Linked DNA regions of Homo sapiens: region 2 is linked to region 1. The links come from fine-mapping of genetic effects on gene expression. Tissue or cell type: whole blood. Region 1 holds a variant in brackets; the other region holds the start of a gene. All regions are shown on one strand. Distances are from middle to middle.

What was found. PIP is the estimated chance that this variant, and not a neighbour inherited with it, causes the effect.
Region 2: YEATS2 starts here. The variant in region 1 is fine-mapped to the expression of YEATS2 in whole blood (TOPMed, PIP above 0.99).

Annotation. Positions count from the first base shown.
Region 1 is chr3:183,961,477-183,969,579 of GRCh38, reverse strand. ABCC5 (ATP binding cassette subfamily C member 5) reads left to right here. Exons shown (of 30, transcript NM_005688.4): 12 at 1,814-1,885; 13 at 4,079-4,203; 14 at 4,323-4,395; 15 at 5,992-6,195; 16 at 7,926-8,069. Among named protein-coding and RNA genes, the nearest start is that of ABCC5-AS1, 41 kb to the left of the region's middle. The variant C/T (reference allele first, on the strand shown) is at 3,226.
Region 2 is chr3:183,692,802-183,700,887 of GRCh38, reverse strand. It overlaps YEATS2 (YEATS domain containing 2), which reads right to left and starts at 3,091. Exons shown (of 31, transcript NM_018023.5): 1 at 2,895-3,091. RefSeq lists a silencer at 2,717-3,186.

The DNA of each region.
Region 1 (8,103 bases):
GCTGGGATTATAGGCACGTGCCACTGTGCCTGGCTAATTTTTGTATTTTTAGTAGAGACGGGGTTTCACCATGTTGGCCAGGCTGGTCTCGAACTCCTCACCTCAGGTGGTCTGCCTGCCTGGCCTTTCAAAGTGTGGGGATTATAGGCGTGAGCTGCTGCATCTGGCCTTACTTCAGTTAACGCCTAACAGGCTTTTTATTTAGTAACTATTAGCTTGATTATTGAGGCAGCTCTAATACATTGCTATCAGCTCTATTAGAAAATGATTCCACACGTGCAGCTAAAATGTATTCTTTTGCTTTGTATGTTGACCCTCATTTTGCCCTTCAGAGCCCACAGACAATGGGAGACCTTTAGCCATTTGAAGAGAGATGCCTTAATTCTCCCTGGGCCTTTGCTTTAGGGAAGAGAAGGGGAGGTAATGTTTGCCAAGTGTCTTCTGTGCACCAGGCATTTTTCTCATTTTTGATGTCTCATTTAGTCATCATTTAATCATAAGAATAGCATTTTTCTCATGTAAATCTAACTGGCCTGAGCAGAGGTTGAACCTGTGACTTGACCTCCTTGTTGCCACCAGGCAGTAAACCATTCAGTACTCGTGGACCATGTCAAAAACTATTTGTTCAACTATCAGACACTGTACTTAGTTTTATGAGGATACTGCCTTTCCTCAAGGTGCTCAGAGTCCAAAGAAGGAGACAGACACAGTATTAGGTTAAGTCACGGGGCCTGGATCACACAGTTAGCAAGTGCTAGTGAAGTTGGGATTTAGATAAAGACCCATCTGCCTCCAGAATCCATGCTCCGTCCACACTACCACTCTCCCTTCCTTCCTGGGGACACTTGAACTGGCACGGGGTTGTAAACAAGTGACCCTTTTGAAGTCATCTGTCTGTCCCTTGAAAACTTTCAACACCACTTTGAGAACTCTTTATCTTGCCTAAGGATACTCAGTTAATCATAGACTTGGTGTTCTACTTTTTTGTGGGATTGATGGTATAAATATTCCTCAGATTTTTGGAAATGTTTTGCATGCAACAGTGTCCATGGTTTTTATTGAAAATTAATTATGTATACACCCTGGAGAAAAATCATAATAAAATGATTTTTAAGAGTCCTGCCCTCTCTTCTGGCAAACAACAAAAACAAGTAAATAAAGAATATGGGTGGCCAGGCGTGGTGGCTCATGCCTGTAATCCCAGCACTTTGGGAGGCCGAGGTGGGTGGATCACTTGAGGCCAGGAGTTTGAGACGAGCGTGACCAACATGGCGAAACCCTGTCTCTACTAAAAATATAAAAATTAGCTGGGTGTAGTGGTGCATGCCTGTAACCCCAACAGGAGAATTGCTTGAACCCGGAAGCGGAAGCTGCAGTGAGCCAAGATCGCACCACTGTACTCCAGCCTGGTTGACAGAGCAAGACTCCATCTCAAAATAATAATAATAATAATAAAATGATTTTTAAAAGCCCTACCCTGTCTTCTAAAAAATGACAAAAACAAGTAAATGAAGAACATGGGTTAGCAGCAGAATAGGAAAGAGGCTGGGCCTAAGAATGACGGTGGGATACTGGAATGTGTGCGGCATATTTACTTTCCCCAAAGGGCTTCCATTCCTGTTATCTCAGGTGTCTCCACAGAAACCCATGAGATAGGCAGCTAATGAGTGAGAAAACAGGTAAGTGGCCTGCTGAGTCATCAGGGTGACAGTTCTGTATGGGTAGACTACAGTTAATGTGTTTTTCCTCAAGTCCTTAGCGATGAGTGGTTAGTAGTCTCTAAATGACCCTCCTCTCTGTGTGCCTTGTCCAGGGTAAACTGGTTGGAATCTGTGGCAGTGTGGGAAGTGGAAAAACCTCTCTCATTTCAGCCATTTTAGGCCAGGTAAGATTTTTGTTATTGTCCTTTTCTGCTGCTTTCTCTGGTTTGCAAGAGTCTCAGGAAAAACGAACAAATTTCCTGGAGAGTCAGGAAAGGTGGAAACAAATGAACCCTCAGCCTGCATTGTATGCCCCCAATCCCCCGCAGTTCCCCCCAGTTCTCCCCCTTCACAGCCTTCTGCCTGGAAGGAGGCCTGGTGGGCGCCTGATGGATGACTGACTGTTGTCCCAGCTGGAACCATTTGGTCTCATGCCTTCTTTCATTCAGCATGTATCTATTGAGTGCCACAGGTATGCCCGTGTATTGAAAATGTCAGAGATAAGAGATGAGCAGACACCCTACACTGCAGCGCTGCCAACAGAGTTAACCTGTAAAGAAGCAGGGCGGCCAGCACTCCCAGCCTCTCTGTCAGACAGGACTGTCAGGGTTTGATCTAGAAGCAAAGCCCCTCTGTTTTCTGCCTAATCCCTGAAAGAGTCATGCCCTTGGGGAGTTCATGGTCCAGTGGGGAGCAAGGCCTTGAGAACACAACAAGCACATCTCCAGGCAGGGAGTGAACAGCGTGCAGGGCCCAGCACACGGTGGCCAGTGCTGAGAGTGAGGGACAGGATGGGGCCGGAGTCATCCCACTGAGACACACTATCATTGCTGTGTTTTAGAATCAAACAATCCAGAAAAAAAAAAAAAACAAGGTGCCCACATGCTTTTACATTAGAATTAAATTAACTTGACTTAGATGGTTGAGATGAGCATAAACTTATGATTATCTCTACACCCTGATGGATAAGGTCCACTGAATTGAAATGAAACAGAGGGGGAGCAGGGGTGCTTTTGTAGCCCCCAGATTATGGAATGCTTTCTTGTCTTGTTTGGCATCAGCTGTCACAGTTGGTGAGTTGTGGTCCTCCTTGAGGGTGGTGGTGCCTGGGGCTGTCTGAGTCAGATCATGGCAGGCATCACCTCCACCTTCTGCTTTATGACACTCTCCAGTGGCTGGGCCCAGCCATTGGTCTTGTAAAAAGCACCAGACTTCCTAGGTGATTTATGATGACCAACCAGATTTGGAGGGCCAGTGAGGAGAGACAGAGATGGGGGGAGGGGGAGAAGGAAAGAAAAGGTCAATTCGTAAGTGCTGCTCTGCCATCTAGCAATGTGCTCCTTTTTCCAGGGTTGACTAGGCAGTGGTTAGGTTGAAAACCAAGTCAGGCTTTGCTTCTGGACAAATCCTGGCAACCCTGTCTCTGGCAGGGAAACGGGTTGGGCTGGTCAGCCCTGCTTTAACTGTAGTTTACATCTGTTGATAGCGCTGCAATGTGCGGTGTTTGTGCAGCAGCCAGAAGTGC[C/T]GGCTTTCCACAGTAGACCCCCTGGGGACTTCTGAACCCTTTGAAGTGCACATCAGAATGCTACCAGTTTGTGGTGTACGTAGGTACACCTGTGTGTGTACACGCTGTGTGAGGGTGTTTGAGAAGACCAGCTTATATGAACAAGTACTGCACAGGCTGGTTAGTGAAACTTTGCTTCAAAGCTGTAGCATCCCTAAACCAAGACAAATGTCTACTATCAGTCCCAAACAAAAGAAATCATGGAAGGGGGTAAAATGGATAAGTCAATTCATATCAAACCATTGCAACTGAACACAAACTTCAAAGCACATGGTTCATCACTGCTTGTGGGCAGGCAAGGTCCATCATTGGTAAATGGACACTGTGTATATATTATAAATACTAGGTGATGTCTAACCTGGACTTTTTTTTTCCCTTGGTCCTCATTTCATAGAAGCAACTGGTCTAGCCAGCATCCTAGGTAATTGCCTTGGATGAGTTGGCCTGCCCCCATGTTGAGGCAGGGATTAGCTGGAAACCCCTACAGCATCCTCTCCAGGAGAATTCTGCAAGAACCTCTTGCTTGTGCTTCTCCTAATTTAAACAGTTTGCACACAGCAAATGGGCTGCAGAGGGAAGTGTTTGCCTTCAAGTTATGGGTTATGCTGAGCTCCCATCACACATAAGCAAGGAGAACTTTGATTTTCTTTGCTGCTTAGCTCTCTTTGGAATTAAAGGTGGAATCTGGATTTGGGTCCAAAAAGCATCCCGGGAAATTACCAGAGCTAGATTCCATTGTGGAAGGTGGGGGTTCCGTTGGCATAGGGTGATGGTTTTGAGTTATGATGCCATTGGATGGTGTCTCTCTCCCTAGATGACGCTTCTAGAGGGCAGCATTGCAATCAGTGGAACCTTCGCTTATGTGGCCCAGCAGGCCTGGATCCTCAATGCTACTCTGAGAGACAACATCCTGTTTGGGAAGGAATATGATGAAGAAAGGCAAGGAATGTTTGGCTTCTGTCATGCTTTCCATCTTGGCCGCGTGAGATGCAAGGCAGCCCTAGTCAGCAGGCTCTGCTCCCGCCGTGTCCCTGACGCTGTCTCTTTGTGTCCTCCAGATACAACTCTGTGCTGAACAGCTGCTGCCTGAGGCCTGACCTGGCCATTCTTCCCAGCAGCGACCTGACGGAGGTACAGGCCTTCCGCCCCTGACCAGGCATTTAGCAGAGTGGCAGAGCTGGGCCAGAGCTGCTCCTGGGAGTGCAACTGAAATGCTTGGGAGAAGAGCCTCACAGGGAGTTAGGCTGTCATTAGGCCTTTGTGTTAGGAAAGCATGTGTCCATTAGGGCAGGGATGTTAACACTGCTTGTTTTAAGGTTGTAAGTATTTTCTGTGTCTTGGGGATTGTAAACAAAATCCCATTGTTGACTCAGAGTTGATGTTTTTTATTCTATCCAGATATTTTTAAAACTACAAGTAAGCGTGTGCATGTTGAGCATCTTCCTTGAACTTGATTTTGCCAACCTCCTTAACTCAGATAGTCTGTAGAGAGCCCTTTTCTATTAGAAAGAGCCCTTAGAACAAATCCACATTTCTTTGGGTCTCTGCCCTGCAGCAGTTTCCAGAGGCTTGTCTTTGGAACTAATTTGTGCTCTTCAGTGTTAAAACTTGTCTCCCATGAATTGCCCTGAAGGTCTCTGGGATTGGCACCTTTATTTAGCTGATTTCAGTTAAATCCCTCAAACCAGATTTGGTGAATGGTTTAATTACTTTAGAGGTCCTTAAATCCATGTCCCCAGATCAGCAGCATCAGCATCAGCATCATCTGGGAACTTGTTAGAAACACAAATTCTTAGGCTGTTCTCCAGACCTACTGAATCAGAAACTCTAGGGGTGGGGCGCAAAGGTCTGTTTTAACAAACCCTGCAGGTAATTCTGATGCAACTTCCAGTTTGAAAACCTCTGAATTAATTGAATATTTGACAACTGATTTATTCATTTAATCATTTAGTAACATTTATTAGGTGTTTATTATGTGCCAGTGACATGTGCAGACACTGTTTGGCACTAAGAATATAAAGGAATAAGACAATAATCTGCACGTAAAGAAGTGTACAGTTAAGAGGATGAGATACCCAAACAAATAGGCACAAAATAATCTGATGAAAAGAGCCCCATCTCTTTGGGGTACTAGCGGGAAAGAGGTTGGGGGAGATTTCAGAGGAGATGATGCCAGAACTGAGCAGACAAAGTAGAGGCAAGCACATGACATTGTCATGTTCATAGTATACACATAATTTCAAATGGCTTAGGTCCCAGGATGTGGAAGGGGGATTGTGCACTGGAGGCTGAGAACTGCTGGGGAACTGGGTGACAAAGGGTCTGGTTTGTATGCCATGTTTGGATACTCAAGGTTTATCCTTTGAGGCTCTTGAAGAATTTTAAGCAAGGGTGGGAGATGGTCAGCTTTGTGTTCTGGAAAGATCTTCCTGCCATGTGGAGAATGGATTGGAGGGGGAGCATCCGGGTGGACTGGCAAGACCAGATGTAGGATTGATCGGTACCCAGATGGCAGTGGTAGAGGAAGAGGCATCTGGGCCAACTCCCCCACTTCGTTGAAGGATCAGCATGGCAGTTCATCTGCGGGGAATCAGCATGGCAGTTCATCTGCGGGGAATTGACAGAAGGAGCTGGTCTGGGTGGGCAAGAAGAGAAGTGACTGGGTGACCCCTCCACGCTGTTCTGGACTTGCGCTGGAGGCTTCACCACACTTCTGGGCTCTTGTAGATTGGAGAGCGAGGAGCCAACCTGAGCGGTGGGCAGCGCCAGAGGATCAGCCTTGCCCGGGCCTTGTATAGTGACAGGAGCATCTACATCCTGGACGACCCCCTCAGTGCCTTAGATGCCCATGTGGGCAACCACATCTTCAATAGTGCTATCCGGAAACATCTCAAGTCCAAGACAGTTCTGTTTGTTACCCACCAGTTACAGGTATGGTTCTTTCTTCCCTCGGCTGCCTGCCTGAGTTTGGGAAATCAGAAACAGGGAGGTAGGTTTGCTCCAGGTATCCTTGTGTTATAACTAGAAATTCCTGGAATCAAGGTTTCATTTTCTTAGCAAATTAGCCCCCTGTACCAATAAAGCTCACTGTACCAGTGTAACAGATGGCCATCTAAATCAGAGATCCTTGGAGCATATCAGCTTCTGCATATAGATCAGCAAGTAAAAGGGCTGAGAGGAGCAGGCCAAAAATGGAGTTTGGGTATAAGATAGTTTGGAAAGCATTGTGTTAACATCTCTATGCAAGTGGGAACTGTTTTGGGAAAACAAGCTTTTCTCCCTCTGCCATTCCATCATAAGCAGGCACTTTGGAGAGCAGCTCAAGGATGTTGCCATCTGGCTCACATATGTTGTCACGTTTAGGGGGCAAACCCTCCATTCTGCCAAAGAAAGTCATAATTATGTATATTTGTGAGTGCAGTGAAAGGGTGTAAATTTAATGCAGGGCTCATGTGGCTCCATCAGCAGATTCATGTGAAAAACCGGAGGGACTCGGCCAGGCACAGTGGCTCACGCCTGTAATCCCTGCACTTTGGGAGGCTGAGGCTGGCGGATCACCTGAGGTCAGGAGTTCGAGACCAACTGGTGAAACCCCATCTCTACTAAAAATACAAAAATTATCCAGGCATGGTGGCACGTGCCTGCAATCCCAGCTACTCAGGAGGCCGAGGCAGGAGAATCCCTTGAACCCAGGAGGTGGAGGTTAAAGTGAGCTGCGATTGCATCATTGCACTCCGGCCTGGGCAACAAGAGCAAGACTCTGTCACAAAAAAAAAAAAAAAAGAAAAAAACTGGAGGAACTGCTCCTTATACTATGTCACGAGGCACAATACACTGAAGTGGGGTTCTCAGTGTTGGCACCACTGATGTTTTGGACCAGATAGTCCATTGTTGTGTGGGGCTGCTTTGTGCACCCCTGGCCTCTAGCCACTAGATACCAGTAGAGACAGTCGCTGGCTTACGGTTCAACTTACAGTTTTTTGACTTTATGATGGTTTCCACACAACCATTCTGTTTTTCACTTTCAGCATAGTATTGAAAAAAATTGCATGAGATATTAAACATTTTATTATAAAATAGGCTTTGTGTTAGATGATTTTGCCCAACTGTAGGCTAATGTAAGGGTTCTGAGCATGTTTAAGGTAGGCTAGGCTAAGCTCTGATATTTTCAATTTACGTTGGGTTTATCAGGATGTAAGCCCATTGTAAATTGAGGAGCATCTGTGTACCTCTCCCCCGAGTTGTGACAACCAAAAATGTCTCCAGCTGGGCGCGGTGGCTCAGGCCTGTAATCCCAGCACTTTGGGAGGCCGAGATGGGCGGATTACCTGTACGGCAAAACCCCGTCTCTACTAAAAATACAAAAAAATTAGCCAGACATGGTGCTGCATGCCTGTAGTCCCAGCTATTCGGGAGGCTGAGGCAGGAGAATCGCTTGAACCCAGGAGGCGGAGATTGCAGTGAACCGAGATTGCGCCACCACGCTCCAGCGTGAACGACAGAGCAAGACTCTGCCTCAAAAAAAAAAATGTCTCCAGATGCTGCCAAATGTCTTCTGGGAGCTTAACTCGTCTCCTGTAGAGAACTACTGAACTAATGTATGGGTTTTTGAATGTATTTGCACAAACAGCATATTGTGTTGTCTCTGCCTTTGCCTTCAGTACCTGGTTGACTGTGATGAAGTGATCTTCATGAAAGAGGGCTGTATTACGGAAAGAGGCACCCATGAGGAACTGATGAATTTAAATGGTGACTATGCTACCATTTTTAATAACCTGTTGCTGGGAGAGACACCGCCAGTTGAGGTAAGATCTGATGGTGTTTGCGTGTGTCCCCTTC
Region 2 (8,086 bases), 270 kb after region 1:
CCCCCTGGCAACTACTTTTTGTGTGGATAAACTTGCCTGTTTCTGGACATTTCGTATAAATAGAATCATACAGCACGTGGCTTTTTGTATCTGCCTTTTTTTTTTTTTTTTTTTTTTGAGACGAAGTCTCCCTCTGTCGCCCAGGCTGGAGTGCAGTGGCGCGATCTCCGTTCACTGCAACCTCCACCTCCCGGGTTCAAGCAATTCCCCTGCCTCAGCCTCCCGAGCAGCTGGGATTACAGGCCTGGGCAACAGACTGTGATTCTGTCTCAAAAAAAAAAAAAAAAAAGAAAGAAAAGAAAAGAAAAAGAAAAAATCTGCTTCACAAGTCTTGTTTTCTGTGAGAAAACTGCATCAACTCCCACCATCTACTGGGTATCACGACAGAAAACAGACTGAAAGCAGAGCAGGACCAAAGGCAGGGAGATAGGGAACAATCCAAGAACGTGGCAATGAACATTCAAATAAAAATCCGTAGTTGATGAGAAGAGGACAGGACCAACTATTTCTGAGAATCTATTCTAAGAAAATACAGGGTAATGTACATCGTATGTGGGCTACACTCAGAGATCTACAACCTAAATGTTAATTCTCTTCTTCCTATGGATTTTATAATAAAAAATAACCCACAGTAAAATATCATGCATCCACTGAATGAACATGAAGCATTTGAAACTGAGAAACATGTGGGGAGAACTCTGCATGCTGTATGTCAAGCTACCTATTTTTAATATCTAAAGAACTTTTGACAATCAATTAGGAAATAACAAAAGATGACAGAGAACAGGAAAAGAAATTCACAAACAGCCAATAAATGGGAAAAAAATGTTCAAACATACTAGTAATCAATAAATGAAAAAAACACAAGACACCATTTTTCATCGATTAAGTTTAGTTTTGGGGCAGATGGAAATGGGGCACTTTTTTTCTAATTTGCACTCATTAGTTTCATTTCCTCACATCCGGTTCCCACCTCCCACTTCCAGAACTATGGACAGGAAGACCAATGACCAAAACCAATAACCACCGTGTTGCCAAATTCAATTGACAATCTTAATGAACATCTCAGAAGCCCTGATAAAAGGACCAATTCAACATCTTCCAGAAACACCTCTTTTGGCTGCCATGATACATGCCATTTTGGTAGGAGCTTTTTCTCCTACCTCACTTGCTGTTTCCTGCGTCCTTTCCCCAACCTTCTTCCTCTACCAGACCTAGAGGTATTTGAGTGTCTGCGCCCTTTTCACTTCTCCACACTCTTTCCCCTCAGTGATCTCACACAGCACCATACCTTTGAATATCATCTACGTACAGATCACTCCCAATTTTTTTTTTTTTTAAGAGACGGGGTCCTTCCTGCCTTGTAGCCAAGGCTGGTCTAGAATATCTGGGCTCAAGCGACCCGCCTCGGTCTCTCAAAGTGCTGGGATTTCAGGTGTGAGCACCGCGCCCAGCCACTCCCAGATTTTTATCTCTAGCTCTAGCCTCTCTCCTCCTTGAGTTCCAGCCCTCTACATCCAACTGCCTCAACACACCGACTTCATAACTAACATGCATCTAAAATTTAATACATCTAAAATAGAATTCGTTTTTCCCACCTCAAATTTCTCTCTTCCATTCTTCATCTCAGTAAACAGCACCACCACCTACTCAGTTGCTCAAAACAAAAATCAAAAAAGCAAAGATTCCCACCATTCCCTCACCAATCCAAGTCTTGTTCATTCTACCTTAAAACATTTAAAAATCTGTTTATACTTCCCCATCTCCCTGCCACGGGCCTAGTCCAAGCTACTGCAAAGAGCACAGTAACTGACCTCGTAGGTTCCTCCCCAGCCCTCTTCCTCTACATAGCAGTCGGATCATGCTACTCGCCTTCTCAAAACCTTCAAAGGCTTCCCGGGAAAAACTAAACTCCTTATCAGGGCATCATCTGCCCTATCTTTTAAAGAGTATACACAAACAGGAATATACATCCAAGGGTAGTATCTCTAGATCGTAAAACTGCGGGCATTTTTCTCTGGCTTTGCTTGTATTTTTAAATTTTTCTACGCTGAATACCCTCTACTCATTAAGAAAGGGGAAATGATATTGCTGAATTCTATATAATATTATACCGCATTTTTTACATGTGAGCGAGAAAAGGGAATGGAAAACGTGGGTCAACTCTGTAACTGCTGAATGCTTAGATGAAAATACTAGCCAACATCAAACTAAAAAAAAATGATGTGTCAGGCCTGTAAGATTGCTGATGGCATTTCTCTTCCTCTGGTTTCTATTTCTTAACATAATCACATTCATGATGGAGAAAACCTCATTGTCTTCTGCAGTCTGGCCACAGCCCTTCAAGCCAGCCTTTCCTGCAGGAGTCCTCACTTTCCGAGGCTTCCACTCCGCCCCGCACTGCCCGCAGCTCCGGCGCGTTGGCCCCGGCCCCATCCCTGGACCCCCAAAGCCTCTCTGACCCCTCCCCTCCATCCCAGGGAGGCCCGGTGGGGATGGCGACAGGTTGGAGGGGCATTCCAGGATCCTTTCGGTAAACCCACGACTTTCTGGTGCTGGGGCCAAATCTTGCCTCCAAGGCCAAGAGCTTAACATCCTAAAAGCTCCGGCCGCTGTGGCTCGGGGTCCCGTATCCCCTCAGCGCAGCGCCCCGCTGAAGAGGAAGCCCCCAACTCACGTTCCAATTCCAGGCTCCCGCTTCTGCGGCTCCCCGGCCCGCACCTGGGATCCTCCCTGCCCTCCCCTCGGCCCCGGGGCCTCACCGGGTCCCGCTGCCGCGCTGCCTGCCGATGGGGGAGGGGCGCGCACGTGCCCGCGCCGCCCCCGCCCAAACAATGCCCCGGAGAGCGGGGCGCGCTCCCGGCCGGTCCCTTCCTGCGCCCGCCAACACTCACCCTTTCTCCGGGTCTCCGGCTGCAGCGCGGGCCCCGCCGGCCGCCGCGAGAGAGCACGGCGAGGTGAGAGAGCGGGCGAAGCCCCGCGGAGCTGCCCCGCCACAAGGCCCCAGCGACCCCCGCAACCTGCGGAAGCACACGGCGCGGTGGAGCCCGCCCGGCGCGTTCCGCCCCGCACGTCAGCAGCTGGGCGCGTCGGGGCGCGCGCGGCGGCGCGCGCGGCCTCGGGGCGGAGCTCCCAGGGATGAGGGCGGGGCGGGGCGGGGCGGGGCTGGTCCGGGCTGGGACCCCGGCCCGCGAGGGCACTTCCTGGGCAGTGTGGGCGTCGATTCTTGCAAAGGCACAGTCGTCCATCACTTTCCTGCCCCAGAAGATGGCGAATTTCAACCCCAAGTTTGACAGAATATTCATTCTGCCGGCGTGTATGAGCTTCCCTATTAATCACAATAGTGACTATGATGTTTGTGTGTGCCATCTTTGTGCCAACCCATGTGCTAAGTGCTGGGTATACAAAATAACAGTAGTTATTTCTAGCCCATTTTACAGATGAAGAAACTGAGGCAGGGAAGGCTTGAGACTTATCTCAGTCACACTAGCTAGTGACAATCCAAGTCCAGTTTTCCACCTAAATATCACTTGAGGCCAACATTCTCTTTCGTTGTAACTCTACCACCCTACCCAAGACCCTGTAATCTCTCTGCCCAAGACTATGAATAGCCTCCCAACTGGTCTTGGGGAACTTCTGTTCCCCTTCAATCCCTTCTCACTGTATAACGATTTACTACTGGAGCTGAGTGGTGGGTTTAGGAAGTTCACTTTTTTTTTTATACTTTACATACATGTTACCAAATTTTTAATGTATTTAATGTTTTTATCAACGCATAATAAATATAAGTGGTGTTTTGTTTTTTGTGTTTTTTTTTTTTTTTGAGATAGAGTCTCCCTCTGTTGCCAGGCTGGAGTGCAGTGGCATGATCTTGGCTCACTGCAGCCTCCGCCTCCCGGGTTCAAGCGATTCTCCTGCCTCAGCCTCCCAAGTAGCTGGGATTACAAGGCGCGCGCCACCACGCCTGGCTGATTTTTGTATTTTTAGTAGAGACAGGGTTTCACCATGTTGGCCAGGCTGCTCTCGAACTCCTGACCTTAGGTGATCCACCCGCCTCAGCCTCCCAAAGTGCTGGGATTACAGGCGTGAACCACCACCCCCAGGCTAATTTTGGTTTTTTTAGACAGGTCTCACTATCACCACAGCTAGTCTCACACTTCCGGGCTCGAGAGATCCTCCTGGCTGGGCACGGTGGCTCATGCCTGTAATCCCAGCACTTTGGGAGGCTGAGGCGGGCGGATCACCTGAGGTCAGGAGTTCAAGACCAACCTGGCCAACATGGTGAAACCCCGTCTCTACTAAAAATACAAAAATTAGCCAGGTGTATTTGGGCATGCCTGTAATCCTAACTACTTGGGAAGCTGAGGCAGGACAGTCACTTGAACTCGGGAGGTGGAGGTTGCAGTGAGCCATTGCACTCCAACATGGGCAACAAAAGTGAAACTCCATCTCAAAAAAAAAAAAAACTAAGAAAGGCTTCCTTGAACCTTAAGCTAAGACTCAAGAGATAATAGGAACTGGGGAGATAAACAAATTTCATGGAGAAGGGGGTGAGGTCACAGGTCAGGATGAGTGTGTTGGTGTTCCCCTACTCTTAGGGTTTAACAGTGAGGTGGAAAGCATAGAAATACCCAGATAAGTGCCAAGAAAGCTAGAAGCTGACTTCCCTTGGTGTAGCTTGGAAGGCTGTCCAAGTCTGTGAGAAGGCTCACACAGTAGGGCTTGGGAGCAGGCCATGGCGTTGGGAGGAGTCTGCAATAGTGCTGCTGGAGCGCTGCAGCTTGCACATTTAGGTATGTCAGAATTCCAGACTTCTCTTGTTGCTCCCTGCCTGGCATGCAGAAAGTAGCATGGTTAAGAGCCATGGACAGACCAATAGGCACTGTGCCAGGGGGCAGGTTTCCTAAAGCAGAGGCCTTGTGGTGGGCTGATGGCCAGGGAATGGCTACAGAACGTAGCTAAGACCCCAAGGATAGGCAGTACTGAAGATACCAGTGGAGCTGAAGCACCCCTAAGTCAGCTGGTGAGAGGAGCGGGGATGGAGGAGTGGGGATGAAAGATGAGACATCAAACTCTGAAGGTGCTAAAGCAACAGGTCATGAGCTTGCCAACCAACCACCTCAGCAGCTGATGCCTGCAGGGCAGTGGAGACCAGAAGTCACCAGAGACATAGCAGCAGAGGCCAGTGAGAACCCAGGCTATAGCTTGAAATCCCGCACACAGATCTCCCCTCCCACCGCTGCCTTGAGGCTTCCCCTGTATCCTGTAGGCCGCCTTGGGAAGTCAAGGGGAAGAAGGGTAAAGTTCTGATAAGACTACAACTTTGAACTGTTTACCCAAATATTCACCAAAATGAAACTTTTTTTTTTTCTTTTGAGACTGAGTCTTGCTCTATTGCCCAGGCTGGAGTGCAGTGGTATGATCTTGGCTCACTGCAACCTCCGCCTCCTGGGTTTAAGTGATTCTCCTGCCTCACCCTCCCGAGTAGCTGGGACTACAGGCGCGTGCCACCATGCCCGGCTAATTTTCTGTATTTTTAGTAGAGACGGGGTTTCACTGCGTTAGCCAGAATGGTCTCGATCTCCTCATCTCGTAATCTGCCCGCCTCAGCCTCCCAAAGTGCTGGGATTACAGGCGTGAGACACCACACCCAGCCTATTTGCCCTTTTAAAAACATCACTTGCAGCTGGGCGCGGTGGCTCGCGCCTGTAATCCCAGCATTTTGGGAGGCCAAGGTGGGTGGATCACCTGAGGTCGGGAGTTCGAAACCAGCCTGGCCAACATGGTGAAACCCCATCTCTACTAAAAAAAAAAAAATGCAAAAATTAGCTGGGCGTGGTGACACATGTCTGTAATCCCAGCTACTCTGGAGGCTTGAACCTGGGAGGTGGAGGTTGCAGTGAGCCGAGATCATGCCACTGCTCTCCAGCCTAGGTGACAGAGTGAGACTCCGTCTCAAAAAAAAAAAAAATCATTTGCCCCAATGAGTAGGTGGGGAATGACTGAAGAGGTGTGTGAACATAGAAGCAGTGAGACAGTTGGAAAGCAATTTCAGTCATCCAAGCAAAAATTGAGGGTGGCACTGGTCGTGGTGGCTCACACCTGTAATCCCAGCACTTTGGGAGACGGAGATGGGCAGATCACCTGAGGTCAAGAATTCAAGACCAGCTTGACCAATATGGTGAAATCCCGTTTCTACTAAAAATACAAAAAAATTAGCTGGTCGTGGTGGCTTGTAATCCCAGTTACTCGGGAGACTGAGACAGGAGAATCGCTTGAGCCCAGGAGGCAGAGGTTGCAGTGAGCCAAGATCGTGCCATTGCACTCCAGTCTGGGCAATAAAAGGGAAACTCCATCTCAAAAAAAAAAAAAAAATGAGGATGGCTTACCCTGGCAGTGGAGATGGTGGGAAGGAGATAGATACAAGAACTATGGAGAAAATACCAGAAGACTTGATGACGATGAACTGGGAGGAGACTGGGGAGAGAAGGGAAGGGGACTGGCCTCTGCTAAGTCAAAATGGCCTCTTAGATAAACTGCCCCTTCCTCCAGGCAGACTCAGCTCTGCTCTGGAGCTTGGCAAGTGTTTAGAGGCTGGTTTTAGGCTCCTGGCTAGCCAGGCTCCCTTAGGCAGCACTCACCTGCACAGCCACTGGAGGTGGGCCTGGAGGGAGAACTGGGGTTGGCTCATACGTTTCCAGCAGTGGCTGATGGTGGATGATGGTGTCATTTCCTGAAAGGAGGGAGACTAAAGGAAGAACAGATTTGAATGTTGGGGGTGGGAGAATCAAGAATTCCCTTTGGGGCATTTTAAGTTTGAGGCATCCACTCGAATACTTTTTTTTTTTTTTTTTTTTTTTGAGACAGAGTCTCGCTCTGTTGCCGAGGCTGGAGTGCAGTGGTGCGATCTTGGCTCACTGCCACCTCTGCCTCCCGGGCTCTAGCGATTCTCATGCCTCAGCCTCCCAAGTATCTGGGATTACAGGCGTGTATTACCACACCCGGCTAATTTTCATATTTTTAGTAGAGACGGGGTTTTACCATGTTGGCCAGGCTGGTCTCGAACTCCTGACCTCAGGTGATCCACCTGCCTTGGCCTCCCAAAGTGCTGGGATTACAGGCATGAGCCACCACACCTAGCCCTGAAGATATTAAATCTGTACATAAGGCTTTGGGGCTCAGAAGAGACCTGATGGGTGGCACTGTCAACGTACTGTTGTCAACAGGTAGTTAATGAACACTGGTGAGGTTGCCATGAAAGAGTACAGTTCAGAGAGATTGCGTAGTCACAGCCTACAGATGTCACATTTTGTTTTAAATGAGCCAACATTTCAAACACTGACAAATTTCACATAATACCCTGAATTTCTGCTTCTATGGAAAATCAGAAACTGTGGTAACCTGGCCATACGTTGTTATTTTTTATTTTATTGTTATTTTTGGGGGGATGAAGTCTTGCTCTGTAACCCAGGCTGGAGTGCAGTGGCACGATCTCGGCTCACCGCAACCTCTGTCTCCCAGGTTCAAGCAATTCTCCTGCTTCAGCCTCTCGAGTAGCTGGGATTACAGGCGCATGCCACCACATCCGGCTAATTTTTGTATTTTTAATAGAGAAGGGGTTTCACCATGTTGGCCAGGCTGGTCTTGAACTCCTGACCTCAGGTGATCCGCCCACCTCGGCCTCCCAAAGTGCTGAGATTACAGGCGTGAGCCACCGCTCCCAGCCCATACATTGTTATAATTGGATATTAGCTATTAATAACACTACTTACCAGGCAGTGCTCCAAGCACTTCACAAATTTAATCTTTGTAACAACTTTATTATTATCATTCCTACTTTATTTTATTTTATTTATTTATTTTTTGAGATGGTGTCTCGCTCTGTCGCCCAGGCTGGAGTGCAATGGTGTGATCTCGGCTCACTGCAACCTCCGCCTCCTGGGTTCAAGCGATTCTTCTGCCTCAGCCTCCCGAGTAGCTGGGACTACAGGCGCGCGCCACCACGCCCAGCTAATTTTTAAAATATATTTTTAATAGAGACGGGGTTTCACCATGTTGGCCAGGATGGTCTCAATCTCTTGACCTC